Linked DNA regions of Homo sapiens: region 2 is linked to region 1. The links come from fine-mapping of genetic effects on gene expression. A gene starts in region 1. The other region holds a variant in brackets. All regions are shown on one strand. Distances are between the middles of the regions. Region 1 holds the start of KIF1B (kinesin family member 1B). Region 2 overlaps UBE4B (ubiquitination factor E4B).

Region 1 (15,353 bases):
AGATGGGGTTTCACCATGTTGGTCAGGCTGGTCTCAAACTCTTGACCTCAGGTGAACCACCTGCCTCAGCCTCCCAAAGTGCTGGGGTTACAGGTGTGAGCCACTGAGCCTGACCTATCATTTTTTAAGTTATGAAGTTATTTACTTTTTTACAGGTGGGGTCTTGCTCTGTTGCCTGGGCTGGAGTGCAGTGGCTATTTACAGGTACAATAAAAGTGCACTGTAGCCTAGAGCTCCTGGGCTCAAGAGATCCACCCACCTCAGCCTCCCAGGTAGCTGGGACTACAGGTGCATCCCACCTTGCCCAGAATAAATTACATATGTATTTTTTAAACAGGTAGTAAAGTATAAAAACTAACATGATGGCCTGGTCAGTGGCTCACACCTGTAATCCCAGCACTTTGGGAGGCCAAGGCGGGCAGATTGCAAGGTCAGGAGTTCGAGACCAGTCTGGCCAACATAGTGAAACCCCGTCTCTACTCAAAATACACAAAAAATTAGCTCGACGTGGTAGTGTGAGCCTGTAATCCTAGCTACTCGGGAGGCTGAGGCAGGAGAATCACGTGAACCCGGGACAGGGAGCTTGCAGTGAGCTGAGCTCGTGCCACTGCACTCCAGCCTGGGCAACACAGTGAGACTCTGTCTCAAAAAAAAAAAAAAAACGAACATGATACCCACCCACATACACTGTATTAAACACCGTATTAAATAATGACAATAGGCTGGGCGTAGTGGCTCATGCATGTAATTCCAGCACTTTGGGAGGCCGAGGCCGAGGTGGGTGGATCCCTTGAGGTTAGGAGTTCAAGACCAGCCTGGCCAACATGGCAAAACCCCATCTCTACTACAATTTTTTTTTTTTTGAGACAGAGTTTTGCTCTTGTTGCCTAGGCTGGATTGCAATGGCGCGATCTCAGCTCACTGCAGCATCTGCCTCCCGGGTTCAATCGATTCTCCTGCCTCAGCTTCCCGAGCAGCTGGGATTACAGGCATGTGCCACCATGCCCGACTAAGTTTGTATTTTTAGTAGAGACGAAGTTTCTCCATGTTAGTCAGTCTGGTCTTGAACTCCTGACCTCATGCGATCTGCTTGCCTCAGCCTCCCAAAGTGCTGGGATTACGAGCGCGAGCCACTGTGCCTGGCCATCTCTACTAAAATTACAAAAATTAGCCAGGTGTGGTGGCACATGCCTGTAATCCCAGCTACATTAGGAGGCTGAGGCACGAAAATTGCTTGAACTCAGGAGGCAGAGGTTGCAATGAGCTGAGATCGCATTACTGCACTCAAGCCTGAGCATCAGAGTGAGACTCTTTCCCAACAAAACAAAACAAAAAAGACAATAATAATAATGACAGGGCCAGGCGTGGTGGTTCACGCCTGTAATCCCAGCACTTTGGGAGGCCGAAGCGGGCAGATCACCTCAGGTCAGGAGTTCGAGACCAGCCTGGCCAACACAGTGAAACCCCGTGTCTACTAAAAACACAAAAATTAGCTGGGCATGGCGGTGGGCACCTGTAATCCCAGATACTTGGGAGGCTGAGACAGGAGAATCGCTCCGCTTGAACCTGGGGGGCAGAGGTTGCAGTGAGCCGAGATCGAGTCACTGCACTCCAGCCTGGGTGAGAAGGGGAGACTCTGTCTCTAAATCAATTAATCGGTCAATCAATCAATCAATAATAGACATTTCCAGAGAAGAAAATGGAAGGCGGAAAATCATCAACGGCAGAAATAGCACCTCCGAACTCCAGCCTGGGCGACAGAACGAGACTCCATCTCAAAAAACAAACAAAAAATAATAATAACAATAAGGAGTTCAAGACAAATCAATAAATTCTCTGGTTTTTCCTCCCAACTCAACATTTCCATCTTCCTGTTATTTTGTTTTTCAAGAAATAAAATATTACACATAAAGTTGCAGATCCTCATGTCATCCTCCCTTTTTTTGTTTGTTTGTTTTGTTTTTCTCTCTTTCTTTCCTGGGTTAATCTCATCCTGAATTTGATGATTGTCATTGCCATCCATGTTTTCACACTTGACTATACATAAATTTAGTCCTAAACAGTATAGTGCTCATATTCATACTTCAGACTTTATGTATAAATGCCACTGTCCCGCACCTATTATCCTGCACCTTTTTTTTTTTTTTTTTGAGACAGAGTCTCGCTCTGTCACCCAGGCTGGACTGCAGTGGTGAGATCTCGGCTCACTGCAAGCTCCACCTCCTGGGTTCACGCCATTCTCCTGCCTCAGCCTCCCGAGTAGCTGGGATTACAGGCATGTACCACCACATCTGGCTAATTTTTTGTATTTTTAGTAGAGACTGTGTTTCACCATGTTGGCTAGGCTGGTCTCGAACTCCTTACCTCAAGTGATTCACCCACCTGGGCCTCCCAAAGTGCTGGGATTACAGGTGCATTTATTCTTAAATATTGAATAGCTTTTATTGCTTTTTTTCTTTCTTTCTTTTTTTTTTTGAGACAGGATCTCACTCTGTCATTGAGGCTCGAGTGCTGTGGTGCAATCATAGCTCACTGTAGCCTTGACCTTCCAGGCTCAATTGATCTTCCCACTCAGCCTCCCAAGCAGCTGGGACTACAGGTACATACCACCATGTCTGGCTACTTTTTTTTTTTTTTTTGTATTTTTTGTAGAGATAGGGTCTCGTTATGTTGCCTAGGCTTGTCTCAAACTCCTAGGCTCAAGCGATCAGCCTACTCTGCCTCCCAAAGTACTGGGATTACAGGCGTGGGCCACAGCACCTGGCCGGGAAGACTTGATTTTTTAAAAAGATCCCATTAAAAATAGCAATAAAGGCCAGGCTCAGTGGCTCACACCTGTAGTCCCAGCACTTTGGGAGGCTGAGGTTGATGGATCACTGGAGTCCAGGAGCTGGATACCAGCCGTCTCTACAAAAAATAGAAAAATTAGCTGGGCGTGGTGGTGTGTGCCTATAGTGCCACCTACTCAGGAGGCTGAGGTGGGAGGATGGATTAAACCAGGGGGCAAGGGTTGAGGCTGTAGTAAGCTGTGATCACACCACTGCACTCCAGCCTGGGTGACAGAGTGAGACCCTGTCTAAAATAATAGTAATAATAAAGTCTTCCTATCAAAAAGGAACACTTCGGATTTTTGTGTATTGATTTTGTATCCAGAAACCTGATTGTGATTGTGATTGTGATGGGAGAGTGGCAGTGCACCACGTGACTAGGACTTCTGATGTTCTCGTATCCTTGCATTCCAGAGACAGCCCTACCAGATCATGGCTACATTCAATTTTCTAGTAATTTATTTATCATTTTAAAGAGATGCTTTTATACAGAATTTGTAATCTGAGAAACTGGCTGGGCAGTGTGACTTCATCTGTCAGAGAGGCAAAAGGCTTATGCAGAGTGGGCTGTTTGGCCTTGGATCCTGGAGCAGCCTTCTTTGCCTTTATTGACCCTTCTGTGCCTTCTGTGTGCCCTTTGGCTAGCTTCTTCTCCTGCCAATCACAATCACACCCTCTTCACTACGTTTTTGTTTTAAATTTTATTTTATTTTTTGTTGAGACAGAGTCTCACTCTATCTCCCAGGCTGGAGTTCAGTGGTAGGATCTCAGCTCACTGCAACTGCCGCCTCGTCCACCTCCCGGGTTCAAGTGATTCTCCTGCCTCAGGTTCCCAAGTAGCTGGTATTACAGGCGTGCCCACCACGCCTGGCTAATTTTTGTATTTTTTAGTAGAGATGGGGTTTTGCCATGTTGGTCAGGCTGGTCTCGAACTCCTGACCTCAAGTGATCCACCCGCCTCAGCCTCCCAAAGTGTTGGGATTACTGTCGTGAGCCACCGCGCCTGGTTCTTCACTACGTTTTAGATTCTTTTTAGATTGTGCTCCATTGAGAGCTCAAGCAATACAGCCACCCAGGTTTTCGTAACTCTCCATGGCGCTCACCACAGTATTTACGCAAGGAGGTCCACGCTATGATGAAGTGGTGTCTACTGTTGAATTGATGAGTTCCTCTTTATTAACCTACTATAGTTTCATTTTACTCTTAGCCGTCAGGAAGCTAAGAGCTGAGTTCTGTGCTCAGTGGCAACATATTTCCTTGACTATGGATTTTTAAAATATTGTTTTTCTGGCCGGGCGCGGTGGCTCATTCCTGTAATCCCAGCACTTTGAGAGGCTGAGACAGGTGGATCACCTGAGGTCAGGAGTTCAAGACCAACCTGACCAACATAGTGAAACACCGTCTCTACTAAAAATACAAAAATTAGCCGGGCGTGGTGGCAGGCACCTGTAATCCCAGCTACTCGGGAGGCTGAGGCAGGAGAATCGCTTGAACCTGGGAGGCGGAGGTTGCAGAGATTTGACATCGTGCCACTGAGCTCAGCCTGGGCGAGAGTAAAACTCTGTCTCAAAACAAAACAAAAAAATTTTTCTTTCTAGGCATGCCTCTCATTCAAACAGCTTTTAAAAAGTCTCTTGCTTGTTTCATTATTATGAATTTTACGCCTATTTTAAAGCTATACGGTTTCACTGCTGTATGCTTTAGTGTAAGCTATGTCAAATCCTTTTGCAGGTAGGTGGAGCTTAAATTCTATAAAATGAGACGTGATCAATAAAAGCGGATGAAGAGTCTGAGGACTTGAGTGGTGGTGGAGATTTTCCAGAATTATTAGTGTAGAAAATTAATTTCGATGTTTTAGTGCATATGCTTGTACATAATACCTTTTACTCACAATAATACTGTATTTAATTCAGGGGAAGACATGTGATTTTACTTTCAATGTCTGCTAGTAAATAAAAATAATTCACAACCTTATAAAGTAATAGTGCTCGGCCTGGGCCTGATAATTGAATATATTATCACTGAAGATTATATTTTGTTAAGTACTGAATTGAACAGTTTCTGAACAGTGAGATTTTTCTTTCCAGCTGAATCTAAATCTGATTTTAAAGAAATCACTGCTCGTGCTTTTGTGTCCTCCGGGTTTCTAACTTCCACTCTCCCTCCTTCAAGGGCATCTCCCAGAAGGGGGCTGGGCTCGTTAACTCAGGGACGGTGCAAAGCGTTTGTTCCTCTCCTCACAGCCCTTCCGCGGTCTCCCAAGGAGACAAGTGGAATGCCCACCAAGTCATGCTTTTCCATTACTCATTCCGCCTTCTCTCCCGAGGTGGCGCGTGGGAGGTGTTTTGCTCGGGTTCTGTAAGAATAGGCCAGGCAGCTTCCCGCGGGATGCGCTCATCCCCTCTCGGGGTTCCGCTCCCACCGCGCCGCGTTCGGCCGGTTCCGCCTGCGAGATGTTTTCCGACGGACAATGATTCCACTCTCGGCGCCTCCCATGTTGATCCCAGCTCCTCTGCGGGCGTCAGGACCCCTGGGCCCCGCCCCGCTCCACTCAGTCAATCTTTTGTCCCCGTATAAGGCGGATTATCGGGGTGGCTGGGGGCGGCTGATTCCGACGAATGCCCTTGGGGGTCACCCGGGAGGGAACTCCGGGCTCCGGCTTTGGCCAGCCCGCACCCCTGGTTGAGCCGGCCCGAGGGCCACCAGGGGGCGCTCGATGTTCCTGCAGCCCCCCGCAGCAGCCCCACTCCCCGGCTCACCCTACGATTGGCTGGCCGCCCCGAGCTCTGTGCTGTGATTGGTCACAGCCCGTGTCCGTCGCGGGCGCCGGGGCGGATACGAGGTGACGCGCAGAGGCCCAGCTCGGGGCGGTGTCCCGCGCCGGCGACTGCGGGCGGAGTTTCGCGAGGGCCGAAGCGGGGCAGTGTGACGGCAGCGGTCCTGGGAGGCGCCCGCGCGCGTCGGAGCAGCTCCCCGTCCTCCGCAGCCGTCACCGCCGGCCGTCGCCGCGCCCTGGCCTCCCGCACTCGCGCACTCCTGTCCGCCGCCCACCGCCCACCTCCCACCTCGATGCGGTGCCGGGCTGCTGCGTGATGGGGCTGCGGAGCGGCGCCCTGCGGCTCGCGGCGGCCGCTGCTCGCGCTGAGGTGCGTCGGTGCCCGGCCCCCCGCGCCCCCGCGCGCCGCGGCTCCTGTTGACCCGGTCCGCCCGTCGGTCTGCAGCGCGGCTGAGGTAAGGCGGCGGGGCTGGCCGCGGTTGGCGCCGCGGTCGCGGGGTTGGGGAGGGGGCCGCTTCCGCGGGGAGGAGCGGCCGGGCCGGGGTCCGGGCGGGGTCTGAGGGGAGGTAGCGCGGGACGGGCGCCGGGTGCGGGAGCCTCGCCCTCGGGGGAGGGGACCCCTCCCTAGGCCAGCAGCGAGTCCCGGGCCGGCGTCCAGCGGTCGGCTGGGGCCCCCGCAGTGCCCTGCACCGGCCCTCCGTTTCCCCCGCGCTGCCAGGCCCCGGCTGTGCCCAGCGCTCTCCAGACCCGCCGCTGCCTGGCCGTTCCCTGGGCTCCGCGCACGTTGCAGCCCGGGGGGCGGCTGTGCTTCGTTTGAAGCCATCGTTTCTCATTTTCCCTCTCCCCTTTCCTCCTTTGTGGTGGGCATCGGGCTTCGGCTGGGAATGTGGTTATGCCCTTTGCCAGATGGCGATAGGAAAGGTCATCGCTTGGCGCTGGGGGAGCCGAGGGCTCGAGGCCTGGAAAGAGGGGTGCGATAGGAAGGGAGGGGGCTTGTTGGATGCTGGCCAGGTGTGAGGAAGGCTGGTGTGGTCTCGGCATTCAGCCGACTGGGATTACTCGGGCAGCCATATTGGGAGGATGATCTGACAAATCCTTTAGGAGCCAAGTCCAGTTGTTGGAAGGCACCGAGTGACAGCCCTGGCAGCTTTCAGGGTGACTGGCCAGACCAGAAGCCAAGTTGTGGGGGTTGGGAGGCTGCTTGAGCAAGCTAGTCATTGTTCATGCAACACAAAACATTCCCGCCCCTAACGCCAGAATGGAGCTTCCAGATCCCTTTTTTTTTTTTTCCTTGATTGCTAAATGAGCTTCCAAGGTAAACTGCCTTCAAGATTCCATTCTTGTTGGGGTGAAATTCCGTGTTTCTCTATTCATCTTCTGCGTCCAGTGCGGGGGCTGTGAAAGGCCTGCTGATGCTTTACATGTGCATAGGCCGATCTGAGAATTGCTAAGGCCACTGTATCAGTATGGAGGCCTCGAGTAGCCGTAGAGCATTGGATGGATAGATTTTCAGAGTCGCTCGACTTGCAGAGAAGAAGTAAACCAGAGTATTCTGATAGTGGGCGAGGCTAGTGGCGGCATTTCTGAGGACGCAGGCTGTCATCTTTGTGGAATCTCGAGGTAGCTGAAATTAGATTGTCAACAGATCCCTTGCTCATATCTCTTACTGCTCTGAGCAGCTGTTCTGCCACCATTGAACATTCCGCTTTGTGTCATGATGTGCCTGTCTGAGCCTGATGAAAGTGTGCTGATGAGATTTGAATAACTCTTAAGAGGTGATATCATGGTGGATATTTTATTTAAAGGCTGGCATTTTGTCTCCTTAGTTTAGTCATAACAAAATCTAGTTCTTGTGTTCCTCTAAGAAGTGAGGTGGTGCTTTCTGATTAAGTTGATATGGTTGCTGGATTATAGAGCAAGTGTTGTTAATGTATTGTTTGAAGGTGGAATATGAGAATTACACATAGGTTGGTATTGTAAAGCAGGTCTGGAGATGATCAATAACTGGGTTCAGCATGAGTCTGTAGATCTGTTCTTTTCTATATCCTAGATGTGGACAGGACCTGGAGAGATGGCATGCCTGCTTTCTTCTTTGTGGCCTTTGCTTTCATTCAAGTTCAATTTGTTCATAAATACATTCTCATAACTTCTCAGGTTGAACTATGTAAAAAATTTTGGGATGGGTGTGGTGGCTCATGCCTTGTAATCCCAACACTTTGGGAGGCTGAGACAGGAGGATCCCTTGAGCTCAGGAGTTCGAGACCACCCTGGGCAACAGAGTGGGACTCTGTCTCTACAAAAATAAATGAATAAATAAATACCTGGGCATGGTGGCTCATGCCTGTATTCCCAGCTATTTGGGAGACTGAGGTGGGAGGATTGCTTGAGGCTAGCCTGGGCAACAGCAAGACCCTGGCTAAAAAAAAAAATGTGTATATATATATGTGTGTGTGTGCATGCGTGTGTGTATATATATATATATATATATATATATATATATATATATATACACACACACATTTAAAAAATTTGGATAGCTTTTGCTAAGCAAGGTCTTAACACTATTTTTTTGTTATTTTTGTCATCAAGCTTTAGTTTTAAAACTTGTTGAATCAAATGTAACTTCAACAGAAACTAGTGTTTTTTGCATTACACTAGTATGAGAGAAATACAGAATGTCTGTTTTGAAATTCCATGCCCTAAGTTAGAAGTATTTCTAAGTTTTTAATTTTTAGAGTTACTTTATTAGTATAAAGATCTGAATATTTTTGATTAAAAATAATTTCAGCATTTGGTAAAATCAGACCTGATTGTGAATCTGATACAGAGGCTAGGTTTTATGAGTATGTGTAGCTCTGCTCTGATGAGTGTTTTTCCAAAATTTATCCAATTAAGTATAGCTTTTAAGGCTTAGAACAGACTGTTTTTCCTTTTCAAGACCAGATATGAATGCACTTTTCCTTTTTTCTCTCTTTCTTCTTTCCCATTTTGATTTCGTGCAGGGAATAAGTGTCCAAGAAAGTCTGCCAACGGAGTCTTTCTTAAGGCCAAAGCTTTTTAGCCCATTTTCTCACTGTGGTCTTGTCCTGGGTACAAAGTAAAGGACAATGGGCCCCCTGCCTTCCTGTTTGTAATCCCCTTCCCAGGCTGCTAATCATAGTAGATCTTTTCCAGGAGGAAGCATATCCTTTTGGTCTTGTAAACTAACATGATATAATTTCATAATGCTCTGAAGTTATTTTATGTCTATTTCATGTATTTCTCTTTGAAAGATGGCCTCGTTTGAACAGGTACTGGTGAATATCTGGATTCTGTGAAACAGTGTGAATAAATATGCATACTTCTTGAACTTTTTTTGTGCAGCTTGTCAGGATAGAAGAGAAATTAAACAGATGTGACTGTGGTAGGAAAAACCTGCAAAAGGTGCCTTGGGCCGGATGCAGTGGCTCACATCTGTAATCCCAGTGCTTTGGGAGGCTGAGGCGGGAGGATTGCTTCACATCAAGAGTTTGAGACAAGCTTGGACAACATAGCAGGACCCCCATCTCTACCAAAAAAAAAAAAATCTGGATGTGGGTGGTGTGTGTTTGTAGTCCTAGTGCTTCGGAGGCTGAGTGGGGAGGATGGCTTGAGTTTGAGATTACAGTGAGCTAAGACAGCGCCATTGCACTCCACTCTGGGCTCAGACTTTGCCTGCTAAAAATAAAAAGATGCCTTGGACTTCTCAGAGTTGAACTGTTTGGTTAACGGGCCACTGATTCATTGATGCTCTTTTACTATAGGCATTACCCATTAACTGAGGGTGCATGTAGAGATTTAGTTCTTTACCTTCCAGGAACTCACACTTTACCACTTCTTTCTTTCTTTCTTTCTTTTTTTTTTTTAAGACAGAGTCTCGCCCTGTCACCCAGGCTGGAGTGCATTGGTGTGATCTCAGCTCACTGCAACCTCCGCCTCCCGGGTTCAAATGATTCTCCTGCCTCAGCCTCCCAAGTAGCTGGGATTACAGGCACCTGCCACCATGCCCAGCTAATTTTTGTATTTTTAGTAGAGATGGGGTTTCACCATGTTGGCCAGGCAGGTCTCGAACTCCTGACCTTCTGATCCGCCTGCCTTGGCCTCCCAAAGTGCTGGGATTACAGGCATGAGCCACCGTGCCCTGCCCTTTTTTTTTTTTGGGATGGAGTCTTACTCTGTCACTCAGGCTGGAGTGTAGTGGTGTGATCTTGGCTCACTGCAACCTCCACCTCCTGGGTTCAAGTGATTCTCCTGCCTCAGCCTCCCGAGCAGCTGGGACTACAGGTGCACACCACCATGCCCAGCTAATTTTTGTATTTTTAGTAGAGACGGGGTTTCACCGTATTGGCCAGGCTGATCTCGAACTCCTGACCTTGTGATCCACCCACCTCAGCCTCCCAAAGTGTTGGGATTACAGGCATGAGCTACTGCACCTGGGCTACCATTTCTATATAGAAATGGTGAGATAAAGTTAACTCCAACTCCTTTTCATTTTAGTACAATTTAGTATCCTGATATGGTTTCCGTGATTTCCAGTCAGAGCATTTTCAAAATTCTTTGTAATGTTGTATGTACATAATACTGTACTTATTATCTAATACTCAATTGGTACTTTTACATTTGTCTTGTGGTTTTTTGTATAGTGTTTGAAGTCACAAGCTTGTAAATGTTTGATGGATTTAAAAATTTATATATTTTATATATATATATATATATATATATATATATATATTTTTTTTTTTTTTTTTTTTTGAGACGGAGTTTCACTCTTGTTGCCCAGGCTGGAGTGCAACGGCGCGATCTCGGCTCACCGTAACCTCCACCTCCCAGGTTCAAGCGGTTCTCCTGCCTCAGCCTCCCTAGTAGCTGGGATTACAGGCCTGTGCCACCACGCCCAGCTAATTTTGTATTTTTAGTAAAGTAGGGGTTTCTCCATGTTGGTCAGGCTGGTCTCGAACTCCCGACCTCAGGTGATCCACCCACCTTGGCCTCCCAAAGTGCTGGGATTACAGGCATGAGCCACTGTGCCCGGCCTATTTTTTGTATTTAATATCACATTGTTTATACCAAAGCATATCATTCAACCATACTACCCTCTACCATTGCCCGTTTTTTTCCCCTTGAGACAGGCTCTTACTCTATTGCCCAGGCTGGAGTGCAGTGGCGCAGTCATGGCTCACTGCAGCCTTGACCTCCTGGGCTCAAGTGGTCCTCCTATCTCAGTCTCCTGAGTAGCTGGGATCACAGGCATGCGCTACCATGCCCAGCTAATTTTTAAATTTTTGTAGAGATGGAGGTCTCACTATATTGCCTATTGCCCAGCCTGGTCTTGAACTCCTGAGCTCAAGTGATCCACCTCAGTCTTCCAAAGTGGGAGGATTAAAGGCATGAGCCCCTGTGCCCAGCCCCATTGCTCTTTTGGATTACTATATTGTTGGCTTAGTTCTCTCTTTCATCCAGATTTTTGACATCATCTTGGCAGATGTCAATGACTATGTAAATAAACAATAACAGAAACAACAATAGTGATAAAATAGCTTATTCATATTGAGCACTTTCTGTGTGCCAGGCTTTTTTCTAAGCACTTTACGTTTATTAACTAATTTAACCCTAATAGCAGCCATATGAAATAAATACTGTTATTCCCATTTTACAGATGAAACTAAAACAGGCCAAGTGACTTCCCCAAAATCATAAGTACTAGTAAGTAACCACTATGCTGAGTTTCCTTTGTAACTACCGTTAACTGTGAAATTTCTTGAATTGAGCTCAAGCAAACATTGGCTTCATTCTGTTCCAGTTGTTTAGTGTTATGGCCACATTTTTAACTTGTCATCATGTTAAGGTCTCAAATTCACCTTCAAGTCTTAAACTGTGATAATTGATAGCTTTCACTTTCATAATCACTTTATGTGTGTTCTCCCACTCTAAGTCTCCTAAACCGTCGGCCTCTTCCAGATTTTACTTCTTTTCCTTCCTTTTCTATACTACGACCTCTGGGTTGCATTGCTTGCAGTTTTTATTCTTTCTTATTATTCTTCAGGACTTACTATGCAGAAGCCAGCCTCACATCATCCCTACCATCCATACCCTCCATTCTTACTCCGTGTCATGGAGAAACCTGCATAGTGCTGGGGATTAGTGCCACAATTAATGTGTAGTCCGAGGTCTCCCTTAAATCTGTCTTTGGTCCCTGTCGGAGCAGTTCTGCTTAGCTCCCTCCCCATTTCTCCACAGTTGCTATTATAAAATCTGGACCCCTTGACTCAAACCTGTCACTGCCCCATGCTTGGCAGAATACCTTGCCTGCCACCTCATAGGAAAAAAGGGCATGAACTCCCTGAGCTTTCCCTTCCTCTACTTACAAACTTCTCTGCCCTCTTTCTTCTGTTCTTTCCCCCAGTGTGAGAAAGAGGTTACTCTGTCTTGGCCTCTGTTAGGGATAGCACTGTTCTAATCTGTAGGAACTCGCAGTATTGGTTACTCTTCTTTTCCCTGCAGTACTTGCCCATTTTCTTTTTTTTTTTTTTTTTTTTTTTTTTTTTTTTTTGAGACAGAGTCTTGTTCTGTCACCAAGACTGGAGTGCAGTGGCCTGATCTTGGCTCACTACAACCTCTGCCTCCCGGATTCAAGTGATTCTCCTGCCTCAGCCTCCCAAGTAGCTGGGATTACAAACGTGTGCCACCACGCCCAGCTAATTTTTGTATTTTTAGTAGAGATGGGGTTTCACCGTGTTGGCCAGGCTGGTCTCAAACTCCTGACCTCAGGTGATCCGCCCGCCTCTGCCTTCCAAAATGTTGGGATTACGGGCGTGACCCATTGTGCCCAGCCTTTTCTACTGTTCTTGAACACACCAGGCATAGTCCTACCATAGGGCACTTGCTCTTACTCTTTCTTTTTCTTTTTTTTTTTTTTTTGAGACAGCCTTGCTGTGTCTCCCAGGCTGGGGTGCAGAGGCACAATCTCCTGGGTTCAAGCAATTCTCCTGCCTCGGCCACCTGAGCAGCTGGGATTATAGGCACCCACCACCAAGCCCAGCTAATTTTGTATTTTTAGTAGAGACGGTGTTTCACCATGTTGGCCAGGCTGGTCTTGAACTTCTGGCCTCAGGTGATCCACCTGCCTCAGCCTCCCAGAGTGCTGAGGTTACAGGCGTGAGCCACCGCACCCAGCTGCTCTTACTCTTTCTTCTGCCTGGAATACTTTTCCCCTGAAATCTGCTTGGCTAACTCCTTTACCTCTTTCAAGTCTTTGCTTAAATCTCAGCACATCAGCAGGCCCACCCTGACCTCATTTATGCACCTGCACAGCAATCCTTCCCACCACCACAATCTTGAACCCCCTGACTTTGCTGTACTCCCCCGTGATGCTGATTACATTCTCGATTCTCTATACCTGATTTATTAATTTTAATGTCCTCCCTCTCCCTACTAGAATGTAAATTCCTCCATGACAAGGAGGTTTGTTTATCTTTTTTGTTCACGGATTATTTTTCCCAGGAACTGCCTGTTGCATTGTAGGCACCCAGTAAATAGCTATTGAATAAAGTATAGAAATGTGCAAGTCTTTCCTATTACAAATAAAGGGCTGGGGGGAGGAAAATCCCTCCTTCGTTTCTGTTCCTTCCAATAAAATCCTTCATTCCTATTTGCTCTCTCCTGCTCATCATAGCCAGGCTCTGACAGTGTCATGGATACTGGCATTTCCCACTTCCGTGCCAACCCACTACAGGCTGGCTTCAGTGTCCCCTCCTGCCCCCCACTTCATGGATACTGCCCTTGCTGTGGTTTCCAGCCTTTATTGCTGAAACCAGGAGGCACACTTCACACTTTTGCAGTACTAAGTATGTTACTCATTTTGTTTTTTTCTTCCTTGAACTTTTGGCTACTTCTGTTTGTGGGCTGGTTTCAGTCTTCTGAAACTGCTGTTTTTCTGGCTACTCACATGGCTATTAAATTCATTCAACATAAATCTTTGTGCAACTTTTTTTTTTTTTGAGACAGAGTCTCGCTCTGTCATCCAGGCTAGAGTGCAGTGGTGTGACCTTGGCTCACTGCAACCTTCATCTCCCGGGTTCAAGTGATTCTCCTGCCTCAGCCTCCCGAGTAGCTGGGATTACAGTCATGTGCCATCACACCCAGCTAATTTTTGTATTTTTAGTAGAGACAGCGTTTCATCATGTTGGCCAGGCTGGTCTTGAACTCCTGACCTCAAGTGATCCACCCGCCTTGGCCTCCCAAAGTGTTGGGATTATACGCGTGAGCCACGATGCCCAGCCGATCTTTATGTAACTTTTAAAAGCTTGCTGTGTCGTTTGGTTTTATTTGTTTTTAGGAACTAGAACTTTGACTACACAACATATTTACAGTGTTAAATAGCAGAATAGGCTATTACAGGAAGTTTTTATTTATTTATAATTTATACCAGTTACTACTTCTAGAAAGGATTTGAGCAGCTTACCACAAATATATACAGTGAAGCTATTAAAATATAAATAAGTAAAAATTTATGTAACAAGAAAAACTAAATGTATAGGTTGCCTCGGCTAATGTGGTTATTGTAATTTAATTTGGAAACATGGAATTTAATGCAAAAAGGGAAAGATAAATTGTACAATTTTCACTCTGGTAAAAGAAAGCCTAATAGTTTGTCGAGAGAAACCTTTTTTCCTAGTATTAAATTCTAAAGATGTTCTAAGAGAAAATTGTTATAAACATCCTGATATAAAGATACGTACGGCCGGGCGCGGTGGCTCATGCCTGTAATCCCAGCACTTTGGGAGGCCGAGGCTGGTGCATCACTGAGGTTGGGAGTTTGAGACCAGCCTAACCAACATGGAGAAACCCCATCTCTACTAAAAATACAAATTTAGCCGGGCATGGTGGTGCATGCCTGTAATCCCAGCTACTTGGGAGACTGAGGCAAGAGAATCACTTGAACCTGGGAGGCGGAGGTTGCAGTGAGCCGAGATCATGCCATTGCACTCCAGCTTGGGCAACAAGAGCAAAACTCCATCTTAAAAGTAAAAAATAGGCCAGGCCTTATGGCTCACGCCTGTAATCCCAGCACTTCGGGAGGCCGAGGCAGGCGGATCACCTGAGGTCGGGAGTTTGAGACTAGCCTGACCAACATGGAGAACCCCATCTCTACTAAAAATACAAAAAAATCAGCTGAGTGTGGTGGTGCATGCCTGTAATCCCAGCTACTCGGGAGGCTGAGGCAGGAGAATCACTTGAACTCAGGAGGCAGAGGTTGTTGTAAGCTGAGATCGTGCCATTGCACTCCAGCCTGGGCAACAAGAGTGAAACTCACCTCAAAAAAATAAAAAATAAAGACTTACTAGGGCTGGGGACAGTGGCTCACACCTGTAATCCCAGCACTTTGGGAGGCCTAGGTGAGAGGATTGCTTGCGCCCAATAGTTCGGTATCAGCCTGGGCAGTGAAGCAGGATCTCATCTCTATTAAAGATAAATTTAGTGGATGGGCGCGGTGGTTCATGCTTGTAATCCCAGCACTTTGGGAGGCTGAGGCAGGCGGATCACCTGAGGTCAAGAGTTCGAGACCAGCCTGACCAACATGGAGAAACTCCGTCTCTACTAAAAATACAAAATTAGTTGGGTGTGGTGGCACATGCCTGTAATCCCAGCTACTCGGGAGGCTGAAGTAGGAGAATCACTTGAACCCGGGAGGTGGAGGTTACGGTGAGCCGAGATCGCGAGCCATTGCACTC
Region 2 (15,353 bases), 36 kb before region 1:
AGACATGTTTACTTTACAATGGAATATGACGTTACTGCATATTTCCCCTGATTTTCTGTATTTGCTCTTACCTTCGTTATGTGACTCTCTGTTATGTGACTCCTGTCATCAGCAGAGGCACTATTGCCACTCCCTGGCCTGGGGACAACTCTTTTCCACTCTTTTAACTTTCCACCTCATGTCTCTTCATAAACAGATTTCAGTGCAAGAGCCATGGAACACGAAACAAAACAGCTCAGACACTGGCCTCCCTTAAAAGTTTGCAAAGTGCAAGGCCATGGAGCATGAAACAAAACAGCTCACTGGCCAGACACTGGCCTCCCTTCAAGGTTTGCAGAATTCTGTGAAGGCCAGATAGTAAATAGTTGATTAATTCCTTTGTAACAAGGTCAACACCCACCTATTTTGTACACTTGTTGGGAAGACTAAGCGAAAACACACATAGAAGTACCTGGCATAAGGCCAAGCACGGTGGCTCATGCCTGTAATCCCAGCACTTTGAGAGGCCAAGAAGGGTGGATCACCTGAGGTCAGGAGTTCCAGACCAGCCTGGCCAACATGGCGAAACCCCGTCTCTACTAAAAATACAAAAATTAGCCAGGCGTGGTAGTGCATGCCTGTAATCCCAGCTACTTGGGAAGCTGTGGCAGGAGAATCACTTGAACCCAAAAGGCAGAGGTCGCAGTGAGCCGAGATCACGCCACTCCAACCTGGGTAACAGAGCAAGACTCTTCTCAAAAATAAATAAATAAATTTATTTTAAGGCCTGCTCATAGACCTGAGCCATCTGTACACTGTAGCCCTGTTCTTTTGGCCCCAGCCTGTGCCTGTGCCTGCTGTGATGTTTTCATTTCCTTTGCTACACTATTTACTATCTGGCCTTTGCAGACAAAGTGTAAAGGCATTTCATTTTGCAAACCTTTAAGGTTTGCATTTTCACCTTCTTTACTGACTAGCTCAGATCTCTCCTACTTCAAACAGAATGACCAACTCTGTCCTGTTATGACTCTTTTATTTCACAGCTTCTCAACAGTGAAATACAGGAGTACTCTGTGCAAAAGCAAATTCTTGAAAAGCTAAGTATATGTTGAATTTGTATAAATCCAGTTATTACATTTCATGAAAACCTTGTGACTTAAAGGAATGCTTTCGTGACTCCCTTTTATGGCCAGTGTTTAATGCTCTCTAAGCCACATCTTCCTGTTTCAGGTTTGCTTAAAACCATGTATGCCCAACCGTAGTGGGTACTGAGTCACCTTGTGAGATTACAGCATAGATTATTACTATTTTCCAGGTGTTTCATTTAAGTTTACTCTGTCTCATTGACTAGATTTAAAACTATTCAAGGCATAACTTTTATCTTCTTTCCTTGCATTACTTTGTTATTTGTATCTGATAAGTACATAAGAATGACACAGACTGAACTGCCAGGGGCTTTTAACATTTATGGGGAAAAAAGTTTATGAAATACTGGCTGGAAGAGCTGACTCAAAACTTTTTTTGCTCAGATAATGGTAAGATTTGTATAATTTTCTCTCTTTTACTTGTTTCTCAATGAATTTGGAGTGATACTTTTTTTAATTAAAAGCATAAATGTAAAGAAAAGTTTGGCTTCTTTTGGTATTTATAAATAAATATTTCATCAGCCTGCAACATTCCATTAAGTATTAGAATTATCAGATCAGAAATGGGGAGTAAAGTTGAAATATAATGTTGTCTTTCTTCAGCTTATGATACACAGCACCTGTAAGGATTCTTTGAAGATTAATCCAACCAATTCCTGTTCCTCCACTGAAATGGGAGTTTTTGGTCCTTTTCACTTGTCTCAACAGCATGAATTGTCCTATTATCCTGTGATTTCCTAGGAGCTTGGACCCCGATTGGCTGCAATGCTGAACTTTAATCTTCAGCAACTTTGTGGCCCCAAGTGCCGTGACCTGAAAGTTGAAAACCCTGAGAAATACGGCTTTGAACCAAAGAAGCTGTTGGACCAACTGACGGATATTTACTTACAGCTGGACTGTGCTCGGTTCGCGAAAGCCATTGCTGACGACCAGGTCAGTGAGTTGAGTTGGTCTCTCTGTGAGTTTACTGGCAGATTTGGAGATAATAACCACAGTGGCCAGGGAACTCGTCTGGTGTAAATGAAGATGAGTGGGTTGTTTTCCTTTGAGTGTGAAGAGCAGATTTGGGCTGGGCGCGGTGGCTCAGGCCTGTAATCCCAACATTCTGGGAGGCCAAGGCAGGGGGATTGCTTGAGGCCAGACTGCAGTGAGCCGTGATTGCACCACCACACTCCAGAATGGGTGAGAGAGTGAGATCCTGTCTCAAAAACACGGTGGCTCACGCCTGTAATCCCAACACTTTGGGAGGTCGAGGCGGGCAGATCAAGAGGTCAGGAGTTTGAGACCAGCCTGGCTAACATGGTGAAACCCCATCTCTACTAAAGATACAAAAAATTACCTCAGTGTGGTGGTGCATGCCTGTAATCACAGCTACTCGGGAGGCTGAGGCAGGAGAATCGCTTGAACCCAGGAGGCAGAGGTTTCAGTGAGCTGAGATTGTGCCACTGCACTCCAGCCTGGGCAACAGGGTGAGACTCTGTCTCAAAATAAATAAATAAGTAAGTAAGTAAGTAAAAAACAAAAGTAAAGAGCAGGTTTGGCGCTCTGAGCCCTCTCCAGTTGAGTTCTTACCCCATCTTTTTAAGGGCCTTCTTGACAAATCCATTACATTTCTGAAAAGAGCCCGGTTTCTCAAGGGATCAGAATCTTCTTTCCTAGTCTCCTGCTAGAGTGCTGTTATTTTTGGGGTTGTCCAGATTAAAAATCTTGTGTGGTTTTCTTTACATTCTTCCCTCTCCTTTATTCCGTGGGTCTCCTGTGAGCAGATCTGTCTGTGTGTGCTTCATTTCCACAGCCACCGATTTAGGCTAAGCTGTCCCTGCGTGATCTTCTAGTCATCCCATAAAGGGCTGGCCCCCTCCATGGTCCGTTCTGCCTCATTTTCAACGTCCTCACAGCTAATGTTTATTAACTGTACACCTCATTTCACCCACTTTTCGTATCTCCACCCATTTAGTCCTCACAAAATCCTTTGAGGTAGGTTCTGTAAAGTCTTTGTTTTAAAGTGAGGAAAGAGGCACAGAGAGGTTAAATAGCTTGCTCGAGGTCACAGAGTTAGTGTGGGACAGAGGCATGATCCATGTCCAGGCAGCCTGGCCTTGAACCCATATCCTCAGTCTCTCTGCTGTCCACTTAAAATGCCCACAAAGAACCATGCTTGTCTCTGTGTCTCTGTCTTTGTTCACACTACTTATCCAAATACTATTCATGGCTCAAGTTAATCATCAGTAGGCATTCTAGAAGGTTCTTTACCCATATCTCATCCAAAGGAGTAATATTACAATAGAAGCATTGTAGGTACTTTTTTTTAATGACAGCTTTATTGAGCTATAACTCACATATGTAGGTGCTTTCTGATGTAGCAGGGGAAGTGGTCTTAACAAAGGATTTGCAGTGAAAAAATACATAGTCATGTGCTGTTTCTGTCGATGCTGGACCACAAAGACCATGTGGCCCCATCATATTATAATACCGTATTTTCACTGTACCTTTTCTGTGTTTAGAATACTCACCATTGTGTTACAACTGCCGACAGGATTCAGTACAGTCCCACACTGTACAGTTTTGTAGCCTAGGAGCAATAGGCTATACCATAGAGCCTCGACGTGGTGTAGGCCACGCCATCTAGGTTTGTGTAAGTAAATTCTATGATGTTTACACAGCAACGAAATTGCCTAACAAGACATTTCTCAGAGCGACACATGACTGTGTGTCTAAAGCAGTTTTATCATACAAAGTAGTGGCTCGTAAGAGGGTTAGGAAATTTTAGTTACTTGTAGATGTTAAAATATATACTGCTGGCCGAGCGCGGTGGCTCATGCCTGTAATCCCAGCACTTTGGGAGGCCGAGGCGGGTGGATCACAAGGTCAGGAGATCACGACCATCCTGGCTAACACGGTGAAACCCCGTCTCTACTAAAAAAAATACAAAAAAATTAGCCGGGCGTGGTGGCGGGCGCCTGTAGTCCCAGCTACTCGGGAGGCTGAGGCAGGAGAATGGCGTGAACCCAGGAGGCAGAGCTTGCAGTGAGCGGAGATCGAGCCACTGCACTCCAGCCTGGGCGACAGAGCAAGACTGTCTCAAAAAAAAAAAAAAATTATATATATATATACACACACACACACAAACACTGCTTTACTAGCCCCCGACTATATAATACTGCACTGATTTAGAAACAGAAAGCAAGTCATAGCCTGCAGTGAGGGAAAGAAAAGGGAAGCACTTACCCATTGAGGTGGGGTCCACACCTGACTGTAGCTGGCGTCTCCAGCCCAGCCAGAGGTCGGTGTGGAAAGCCCCAGGGCTCTTCCATCGTTGCCGTAGAGAGACTTGGAAGAGCTGTTTAGTGTGCGCCCTCTCCAGGGTGGTTGTGCTGTGGCTGCCACATCACAGGCGCTTAACGTAACACACAGAAGGTTTCGGTGTGGGTGGGCACAGCACGCCCAGTGAGGTGATGCAAAGCAACTGGGTGACAAAGGAATGCTTTGAGCGGCCTTTGTTTGGTGACCAACCACACATTGCATTGCCTGGTCATGCCTTAGATTATGGTGGTGGCCTCTGGTGGCACCTGGCTTGGGTTGTAGACAGCAGTTTCTGGCACAGTGACACACGGGGCTCCTTGAATGTCTAAATAGTCCTGTTCTTCCAGAGTGGTGAAACAAACACACATGTGCCAGTGACACATGGAGAGAAAAGCATATTTTAAGAAGTGTTGGGGCTGGGCGCAGTGGCTGACACCTGTAATCCCAGCACTTTGGGAGGCCAAGGTGGGTGGATCATGAGGTCAGGAGTTCGAGACCAGCCTGGCCAAGATGATGAAACCCCATCTCTACTAAAAATACAAAAATTAGCCGGGCACAGTGGAAGGCGGCTGTAATTCCAGCTACTCGGAGGCTGAGGCAGGAGAATAGCTTGAACCCGGGAGGCAGAGGTTGCAGTGAGCTGAGATCGCACCGCTGCATTCCAGCCTGGGTGACAGAGCAAGACTCCATATCAAAAAAAAAAAAAAGAAGAAGTATTGGGCTGGGTGCGGTGGCTCACACCTGTAATCCCAGCACTTTGGGGAGCCGAGGCGGGCAGATCACCTGAGGTCAGGAGTTTGAGACCAGCCTGGCTAACATGGTGAAACCCTGTTTCTACTAAAAATACAAAAAATTAGCCGGGCATGGTGGTGTGCGCCTGTAATCCCAGCTACTCGGGAGGCTGAGGCAGGAGAATCGCTTGAACCTGGGAGGTGGAGGTTGCAGTGAGCCGAGATCGTGCCATTGCACTCCAGCTTGGGCAACAAGAGCGAAACTCCGTCTCAAAAAAAAAAAAAAAAAAAAGTGTTTTTGCTTCCTTTCACAGTGTGGTGTGTGTGCTGATTGTTGGGTATTTTCTATTTATATTGGCCATAAGCTGATTAGGGGCCTGCTTACTTGATTGTTTTAGAAGAGAGCTTTGGTGGGGCAGGGGGCGGTAAGTGCAGAAGGATGGATGGTTGGCAAGCACTGGGGAAGAGGTTGTAAAATTGCATTTTCTTCTTTGGAAGCAGCAGTATCTTAGTTTGCTTTGGTATGTCTTAGTTTGGTTTGGTATGTCTTGTTTTCCGGGAAAGACAAAGGAAGAGGAAAATGACAGCTTTGCAGGTAAAGAAACTGAGAGGCTTCTCTCCCTCTATACCAAGAGTAGGCTGAAGACCCATGTCCAGAAGGCTGACAGAAAGGTGCCTGGGTGAAGAGCCACTGAGCTTGATGCTCAGGAATCTGAGGGCAGAGCTCCATGCCAGAGAAGTGGGATACCACATTGGTCCTGGGAGCCAAGAGGACCAGGATAGGGAGATGTTAAAGTGGCCTAGACTGTGTCTTTATGGGCAGACGCCAGTTCCATGGACAGACTGCATATCTGTCGTCCATGAAGCATTGTCTGTTAACACCATTTTCCATTAAAAAAGAAAAAAAATTCAGCACCTACTTAGAAAATAAAAAAAAATAGCCGGGTGCAGTGGCTCACGCCTGTAATCCCAGCACTTTGGGAGGCCAAGGCGGGCGGATCACAAGGTCAGGAGATCGAGACCGTCCTGGCTAACACGGTGAAACCCCATCTCTACTAAAAATACAAAAAATTAGCCAGGCGTGGTGGCGGGCGCCCGTAGACCCAGCTACTCGGGAGGCTGAGGCAGGAGAATGGCGTGAACCTGGGAGGTGGAGCTTGCAGTGAGCCGAGATCGCGCCACTGCACTCCAGCCTGGGCGACAGAGCGAGACTCCGTCTCAAATAAATAAATAAATAAATAAATAAAAAAGAAAATAAAAAAAATAAAAATCCCATCAGTCACACTTCCCCCATGCAGTCAGTCTTTCCTAAGTAATTGCTCCCTCCTCTAACCTACCAGAATATGAGTCTGCGTCTCACAAATGTAATGCTTCATTTTCTTGTTATTTTTTTCTTCTTTAATGAGGTAAGATTAATATATAACGTAGAAGTAACCATTTAAAAGTGTACCATTTTGTGGCATGTAGTACAGTCACAGCGTTGCACAGCCACCACCTCTACCTAGTTCCACTACATGTATCACCCCAAAAGGAAAACCCTTAAAGCAGTC[G/A]CTGTCTAGACCCCCTTGCCCCAGCCCCTGGCAACCACAAATCTGCTGTCTCTCTTTTCCTATTTTTGGATTTACCTATTCACCTCTCCGGGATATTTCATATAAACGGACTTATACAGTGTGTAACCTTCTATGTCTGGCTTCCTTCACTTAGCATCATGTTTCAAGGTTCATTTGTGTTGTAGAATGTATCAGTATTTCATTCCTTTTTAAGGCTGAATAATATTTCATTGTATGGATATACCACCATTTGTTTATCCTCATCCATTGATAGACATTTGGGTTGTCTCCAGCCTTTGGCTCTTGCAAATAGTGCTGCTATGAACATTTGTGTAAAAGTATTTAAACACCTGTTTTCAGTTACTTTGGGTCTACACTTGGGAGTGGGATTGTTGGTCATGTGGTAATTCCATGTTTAACTTTTTGAGGGATGCCAGAATGTTTTCTACAGCTGCCGCCCATTTGACATTCCCACTGGCAATGTATAAGGTTTAAGTTTCCATTCTTTTTCATTTTTTTTCTTTGGTTTAGTTTATATTCTTTCCATCATGAAGTTTAAAAATTAAACATGTTAATTTGTTTTTGTTTCTTAAATACTCATCCTAGTGGGAGTGACGTGGTATTTCATTGCGGTTTTGATTTGTATTTCCCTAATGTCAAATACCATTGGACACCTTTTCATGTGCTTGCTGGCCATTTTTATATTTTCTTGGGAGCAATGTCTATTCATGTTCTTTGCCCATTTTTTAATTGGGTTGTTTGTGTTTTTGTTGTTGAGTTGGAAGAGTTCTTTTTTTCTTTTTCTTTTTTTTTTTTTTTTTTTGAGATGGAGTCTCCCTCTGTTGCCCAGGCTGGAGTGCAGTGGTGCGATCTCAGCCTACTGCAACCTCCACCTCCCAGATTCAAGCAATTCTCTTGCCTCAGCCTCCCAAATAGCTGGGACTACAGGCGTGCACCATCACGCCTGGCTAATTTTTTTTGTATTTTTAGTAGAGACGGGGTTTCACCATGTTAGCCAGGATGGTCTCGATCTCCTGACCTCATGATCTGCCTGCCTTGGCCTCCCAAAGTGCTGGGATTACAGGCGTGAGCCACCGCGCCCAACCAGAAGAGTTCTTTATGTATTCTGGATGCTAGGTCATATCAGATGATACATGTATCATTGGATATATGATTTGCAGATATTCTTGTGTTAGTCCATTGCATCACTATACAGAAATACCCAAGGCTAGGTACTTTATGAAGAAAAGAGGTTTAGGCCGAGCACAGTGGCTCACGCCTGTAATCCCACCACTTTGGGAGGCCAAGGTGGGCAGATCACTTGAGGTCAGGAGATCGAGACCAGCCTGGCCAACATGGCAAAACCCTGTCTCTACTAAAAATACAAAAAAATTAGCCAGCCGTGGTGGCGCACACCTGAAATCCCAGCTACTCAGGAGGTGGAGGCTTCAGTGAGCCGAGAGCGTGCCTCTGCACTCCAGCCTGGGTGACAAAGCGAGACTCCGTCTCAAAAATTAAAATTAAAATTAACTGGGCATAGTGGCATGCACCTGTAGTCCCAGCTACTTGGGTGGCTAAGGTGAGAGGATTGCTTGAGCCCAGGAGTTTGAGGCTGCAGTGAGCCATGATTGCACCACTGCACTCCAGCCTGAGTGACAGAATGAGACTCTGTCTCAAAATATATATATATATTTATAGTAAAACATATATGGCAAAAACACTGGCCACTTGTTTTGCGATGGTGATACAAATACAAATATATATCATCACTAAGCAAGTGGCCAGTGTTTTTGCCATATATGTTTTACTATAAATACAAACTACAGCATACTTTACTGTTTGGCATGGCAGTGATTTTTATGAATTAGGCACCTGTGAGGTAGATGTTACTCTGCCCATTTTACACTCAAAGAACCTGGGCTTAGGAGGGTTCAGATTTGCCTACGACTGCACAGCTGGTAGGTGGTAGAGCCAGAATTCAAGTTCAGATTTGTCTGGGTCCACGGTGGGCGCCTGACCTCCACTCCACAACTTCCCTTCCTGGGGACATAAATCGTGTCTGTTCCCAGGCCTATTCATCAGTTCACCAGGGTGGTCTAACGTCCATGGAGCCCCTGACATGTGCTAGTGCTGAACTAAATGAGCTTGAAGAAGCTTGAAAGTGAACAGGAGAAGGCTCCTCTAGAGTATGAACAATAGTGGATTGTTTTTACCATGCTTACCTTTGTGGAAGAGAGCTGAAATTTTCACCTCTTCTTTCTTATAGGCTGCCAGGGCACAGTGCCCCCCAAGGACTGAAATAGACTAGATTTCCTTCTCTTTTTAATGTTTAAACTTTAAAAGAAATGCGTGCTAGCTGTAAAAATTCAAAAAAAAAGCCCGTCTGCCTCAGTCCTGCAGCCCTCTCCAGAGGGAGTGACCTCGTACAGTTTGGCACATATTATTCCAGTCTTTATCCATTTGTAAGCATAAAAAGTGCATACTTTTATGAGGCTATAAATGCATAAAGACGGATATATAAAATATATAAGTGTATATATAATTTTAGGGCTTTTTTAGTGGGGGAAAATCCACAAATGGATAATACTTTGGATATTTTCTGCAGCTCGCTTTTTTCCACCTGACGTACATTTACGTCTCACATTGCCATTCCTCCTTTGCAGAGATCCTACAGTAAGGAATTGTTTGAAGAAGTTATTTCAAAGATGCGGAAGGCAGGGATCAAATCCACAATAGCAATAGAAAAATTTAAGCTGCTCGCCGAGAAAGTGGAGGAGATAGTGGCCAAGAACGCACGCGCAGAAATCGACTACAGCGACGCTCCTGATGAGTTCAGAGGCAAGTGGACTCGTCGTTTTCATGCTGATTTCTTTTGAGTTAACTGGAAATCGATAACATTACAAGAGGACGTCCTGTGCAATTAATTTTTTAATGGTGTGCTAGAGCTGCTTTTTGAGACAATCTGTCTTAAATTACATTTGCCTATTTTTAGCTCATATTGTAAATTGAGAGGAAGAAACATCCTTAGCTTAGCCTGACTTAAAGCCAGATAACAACCCTGAAGATTCTAAGGGCAGGGCTGCCTTTGCAAGTGGGGATTCACATTTTCAAAGAATTCCCAGAAGTCCTAAGACAAAGAATTCCAGCCTGCCGTCCTCGCCACGGAGCCTGTGGGGCCTGCTGCTGGGTCTGTCCCAGGCTTTCTTCTCTGTTCCCTCCCCCCAGCAGTAGCTGACAAAGAAGCGCCTTCCCCTTACAAAAGGCAATGTATATGCCTTTATTGAAGGCTGATTTCCTTCTAAACCTGGGGGCCTCACAGGGGCCCTTTGATTGCTGTTCCTTTGGATAGATTTTTCGCTGGTAGAACGGGCTTTGTTTTCTTTTTCAGTCGTGGGCTCTCAGTAGATTAGAGTTTGCTTTGCTTTGTCCCCGCAGACCCTCTGATGGACACCCTCATGACAGACCCCGTGCGGCTGCCCTCTGGCACCATCATGGACCGCTCCATCATCCTGCGGCACCTGCTCAACTCCCCCACGGACCCCTTCAACCGGCAGACGCTGACAGAGAGCATGCTGGAACCAGGTAGAGGAGGGTGCAGTTTGAGGTGCAGCGCTGGCGTCAGTACCAAGAGATAAAGCCCAAGTCACATATTGGAGATGAAGCAGAAGGGAAATTTATCAAATGCAGAAACTACCTACTTTATGACACTCTGTAGCAAAGACCCAAAACACTCTTGGCCCTTTTTCCCTGCAGACATCCAGTCCCTCCCTCTCATGTCCCAGTCCTTCTGGAGTCTTCGGCTCAATGAGGGAAAGAATGGCCTTTTCTTCCCATTTATACAGAGCGACAAGCATCCTCTCTCAGGAAGAGCCCTCCCATCTGGGGCATTAATCCTCCTTTTTTTCTTTTCTCAGTGCCAGAACTGAAAGAGCAGATTCAGGCGTGGATGAGAGAGAAACAGAACAGCGATCACTAAACCGTTCCGCCGCCCACCCTCTGCTAGACACAGCCAAGGCCAACGAGGCAAGCAGAAGCAGCGGCCGCAGCGAAGCTGCCGTTCATGTGTTGGAGGCCAAATGTGGCAAACCAACCCCAGGCCCACCCAGAGCGAGCAAACGCTGAGACCTGAAAGGACATGGATGAGAAGAGGAGCCCGCTTCCTGTACATATATTTAAGTGACAAACACGGTCAAAAGCTTAAGGGACAGGTTTTATGGTTGCTTGTGTAATAAAGCATGTCCTTCGTATGTCACAGTTTGGGGCAACGGAAGTCTTTTAGTGATGGCTAATGGGTCTGGGCAGCATCCCTTCATGAATTTTTTTTTAATCCAATATCCGTTGATTTGATTGTGATTAGAGAACCTTGGACATTTTGCTGCTAAAGAATCTTTTTTCCCCTCTCCCCCTTCCTGACCCTACTTGCACTGCTGTGGATTTTTTTAAGAGAAGCAAAAACAAAAGTAAACTCCTTTCCCTGGCCCTCCAAACATATATTCTGTGAGATAACTGTGCCTGCTACCAAGTGTTAATCCTGGGATCGTATTTTTATATCATATTCACATATTTGTTTTTTTAATTGGTGTTAGATGACATGATTAATAAAAAAGGCAAGATATTTTCAGAATTTGAATTTCAGTTTTTTTTTTCTTTTGAAATGTCCCTTTAAGATTTTTTTATTCTAAACAAAATAAAGAAAATCCTGCTGCTCTGGTCCTTGTGATAAGCCTCTCTTCGGCATCTGAGGAGCAGCTGCAGCAAAATCTAGGGGTGTAAGTGTATCAGGACTTATGTGACTTATATTTTGGGGAGATGAGGGTTGGGTTTTTTTTTTAATGCTACGTGACAGTTTGAAACCTTCACAGTTATCCTCTGGGGGTAAATCAATTCTTCAACCCTTGGGTGTGTGAGTTTGAGGCAGGGTCATTTGTGTGATGTGTTTGGCCTTACCAAAGCAAAAGAGGGTGCAAGAATGTGGGAGTATGTCTGCCGGTTTCAACACACACAGACAAACACAGCCACACGCGCACACAAGTATAAGACTTTTTGTATTACTGCTCCCTACTTAACATACTTGAATTCTCAAATTTCCTTTGGGGTAAAAAAAAAAAAAGGATTTGAAACCATAAAGTGTTCTGAAGAAATTAAGTCTATAAAAAGCATACTTTCTTTTTTCTTTTCCTTTTTTCCCTCCACAGACAATGTCCTCTGTTCAATTCCTAACGCAAACTACAATAAATGGTGACACACGTTCAGAAGAAATCTTCTTTGAGTCTCTTCTCTTTTGTGGAAAAAAAAAAAGGGCAGGGCGGGTGGGTAAACAAGAGCCAAGTGAGTTTGCATGTGGTGAATGATCTTTCCTGGATCCAATTAGGAGCTGCTATTTTTAAAAGAAAACTTTCTTATTCATGTCAGTCTCGACATTTGGTTCTCATTTCACTGTTTGCTGATTTGAGGGGGTAAGCTTTGTCATATTCAGTCTTCTGCCTTTCTTGAGTTTCTTCTGCTTTATCTCAAGTATCTTCCCTGACCTTCAAGATTCTTCCTCAGGCCGGGCCCGGTGGCTCACGCCTGTAATCCCAGCACTTTGGGAGGCTGAGGCGGATGGATCACCTGACGTCAGGAATTCGAGACCAGCCTGGCCAGCATGGTGAAACCCCATCTCTACTAAAAATACAAAAAATTAGCCGGGCGTAGTGGCAGCGCCTGTAGTCCCAGCTACTCGGGAGGCTGAGACAGGAGAATTGCTTGAACCTGGGAGGTGGAGGTTGCAGTGAGCCGAGATGACGTCATCACACTCCAGCCTGGGTGACAGCGAGACTCCGTCTCAAAAAAGAAAAAATATATATTTATATATATTTACATATATATTTATTTATATATATTTATATATATATATATAACATGGCCAGGTGCGGTGGCTCACGCCTGTAATCCCAGCACTTTGGGAGGCCAAGGCAGGTGTATCGTCTGAGGTCAGGAGTTCTAGACCAGCCTGGCCAACATGGTGAAACCCCATCTCAACTGAAAATACAAAAATTAGCTGGGCGTGGTGGTGGGTGCCTATAATCCCAGCTACTCGGGGGGCCGAGGCAGGAGAATTGCTTGAACCCAGGAGGTGGAGGTTGCAGTGAGCTGAGATCGCGCCATCGCACTCCAGCCTAGGGGACAAGAGTGAGACTTCGTCTCAAAAAATAGATAGATAGATAGACACAATAAATAAGGAAAAAGTTCATGATAGCAAAAATTTTAGGCAATATAAGCAAAAAGAAAAAAAATCCATATTCTCACCATGCAGAAGATTCTGTTTAATTGGGTTTACTTTTTACTAAACTTACATATCTAAGCTTAGTGCCTGTAGAATTAGGATACTGACTGGCATCTTGCCTAATTTTGTTTGTGTGGTTATCTGACCAGTGTGTACTGCTTGTCTCCTCTCCATCCCAGATTCCAAACTCTTATTTTAATCCTCCAGTTGTCCCCGTGAATGTAATAAAATGCTGCTTTATACCGCCATATGCACTTGTCGTTTTGAATAATTCAGAGGTTTCAAGGACCTGCCGGATAGGACAGAGACACAGTCAGTCTCCTGCCTGTACTATCTATAGGGGGAAGATGATTTGGGTTTCCATTTTTAGAGTCTCAAGAGTTGCTGTTTTGTGTTTGTCTGCAGTCTCTTAATTGTGGATATTGAAATAAATCCCAAAATATATTAAAAGTAGGTCTTGGCTAAAAGGAAGATTGTCAAATAAGAGAATCAGATTGGCAGAAGAGAAATGATCCTTGAGAGAAAGATGATTAAAATCTGCCTTGTGTTGTGACTCAGTGTTGTGTAGATTTTAAAAAGATATTGATTGAATATCTTTTGAAAAAAAAGCTGAGCACACCGTTCACTTTTTGTAACCTCTGGGTTTGGTACATCGAGTAGTGAATTTCACAGCAATTTGATTGGAGTGCTAAAGTGACATGAATAGGCCTCATTTGAGTAGGTACTTTTTTTTGTTTTTTGGTTTTTTTCAGACGGAGTCTCGCTCCGTCACCCAGGCTGGAGTGCAGTGGCGCAATTTTGGCTCATTGCAACCTCCACCTTCCAGGTTCAAGTGATTCTCCTGCCTTAGCCTCCCGAGTAGCTGGGACTAGAGCACATGCCACCATGTCCAGCTAATTTTTTTTTTTTTTTTTTTTTTTTTTTAGTAGAGATGGGGTTTCACCATGTTGGCCAGGCTGGTCTTGAACTCCAGACCTCAAGTGATCCACCTGCCTCAGCCTCCCGAAGTGCTGGGATTACAGGCATGAGCCACCACACCAGGCCTCAAGGTACGTTTTTGATTGAAGGAGACACAGTAGCCTATGAGCTTGATGCTGGTGTCAGATAGTGTTGGTGAAGAAAGTCATTCTGAATTGGTGATGATCATTTGCATTTCATGAGCATATTCTATGTGCAAGCCACTCTTACATGTATTAATTTTTTTTTTTTTTTTGAGACAGAGTCTCGCTCTGTCGCCCAGGCTGGAGTGCAGTGGCGCGATCTCGGCTCACTGCAAGCTCCGCCTCCCAAGTTCACGCCATTCTCCTGCCTCAGCCTCCCGAGTAGCTGGGACTACAGGTGTCCGCCACCATGCCCAGCTAATTTTTTGTATTTTTAGTAGAGACAGGGTTTCACCGTGTTAGCCAGGGTGGTCTCGATCTCCTGACCTCGTGATCCACCTGCCTTGGCCTCCCAAAGTGCTGGGATTACAGACAAGAGCCACCGCACCCGGCCACATATATTAATTAATTTAACCCTCCACAACCATAATGTAGTGGAACTGGCACATGAATCTAGGCCATCTGGCCTTTCCAGCCTCATCTCTTCCCGACTCCTGCTGTATGGCAGAGTTCCAGAATGCTAGAAGTTCAGAATAGCTCAGAATGCCCAAGGAGAAGCAGCATAGCATTTTGGAAGGGACTTTGGCCTTGAGATCAGCTCTAGACCTAACCCCCATTTTAAACAATTAGATAACTTCAATATCACAGCTTTCATTCGTTACTAGCCACTCACGTTGACCCCAGATGTATATCTCAAACCTCCACTTCTCTCCTGTACTGTACACACTGGCCATCTCAGATGACTAAAAGGTCCTCAGACTTAACATATCCCAACCTGAACTCTGTACATTTCACCCCACGCCCGCTCCTCTTAGTCTCCTCATCACAGTAAATGACAACTCCATCCTTCCAAGTCGCTCAGGCCACAAACCTTCGAGTCATCCTTGACTCCGCTGTTGTGCTCTCCTCCTATGTCCAATCTGTCCACAAATCTCTCTGCTCAGCTGGGTGCAGTGGCTCACGCCTGCAATCCTAGCACTTTGGGAGACCAAGGTGGGTGGATCACCTGAGGGCAGGAGTTCGAGACCAGCCTGGCCAACATGGTGAAACCCCGTCTCTACTAAAAATACAAAAATTAGCTGGGCATGGTGGCGGGCTTCTGTAATCCCAGCTGCTTGGGAGGCTGAGGCACAAGAATCACTTGAACCCGGGAGGCGGAGGTTGCAGTGAGCTGAGATCGGGCCACTGTACTCCAGCCTGGGCTACAAAGTGAGACTCTGTCTAAACAAACAAAAAAATCCCTCTGTTCTACCTACAAAATGTATCCCAGAACTCGACGA

What was found. PIP is the estimated chance that this variant, and not a neighbour inherited with it, causes the effect.
Region 2: its variant is fine-mapped to the expression of KIF1B in monocytes after interferon gamma (Fairfax 2014, PIP 0.91).

Annotation. Positions count from the first base shown.
Region 1 is chr1:10,204,820-10,220,172 of GRCh38, forward strand. KIF1B (kinesin family member 1B) reads left to right here and starts at 5,751. Exons shown (of 49, transcript NM_001365951.3): 1 at 5,751-6,059. RefSeq lists silencers at 4,972-5,266, 5,353-5,432, 5,463-5,982 and an enhancer at 6,884-7,539.
Region 2 is chr1:10,169,273-10,184,625 of GRCh38, forward strand. UBE4B (ubiquitination factor E4B) reads left to right here. Exons shown (of 28, transcript NM_001105562.3): 25 at 1,866-2,057; 26 at 9,372-9,546; 27 at 10,144-10,290; 28 at 10,623-11,967. The coding sequence ends at 10,684. Among named protein-coding and RNA genes, the nearest start is that of KIF1B, 34 kb to the right of the region's middle. RefSeq lists enhancers at 1,272-1,321, 4,232-4,311. The variant G/A (reference allele first, on the strand shown) is at 6,709.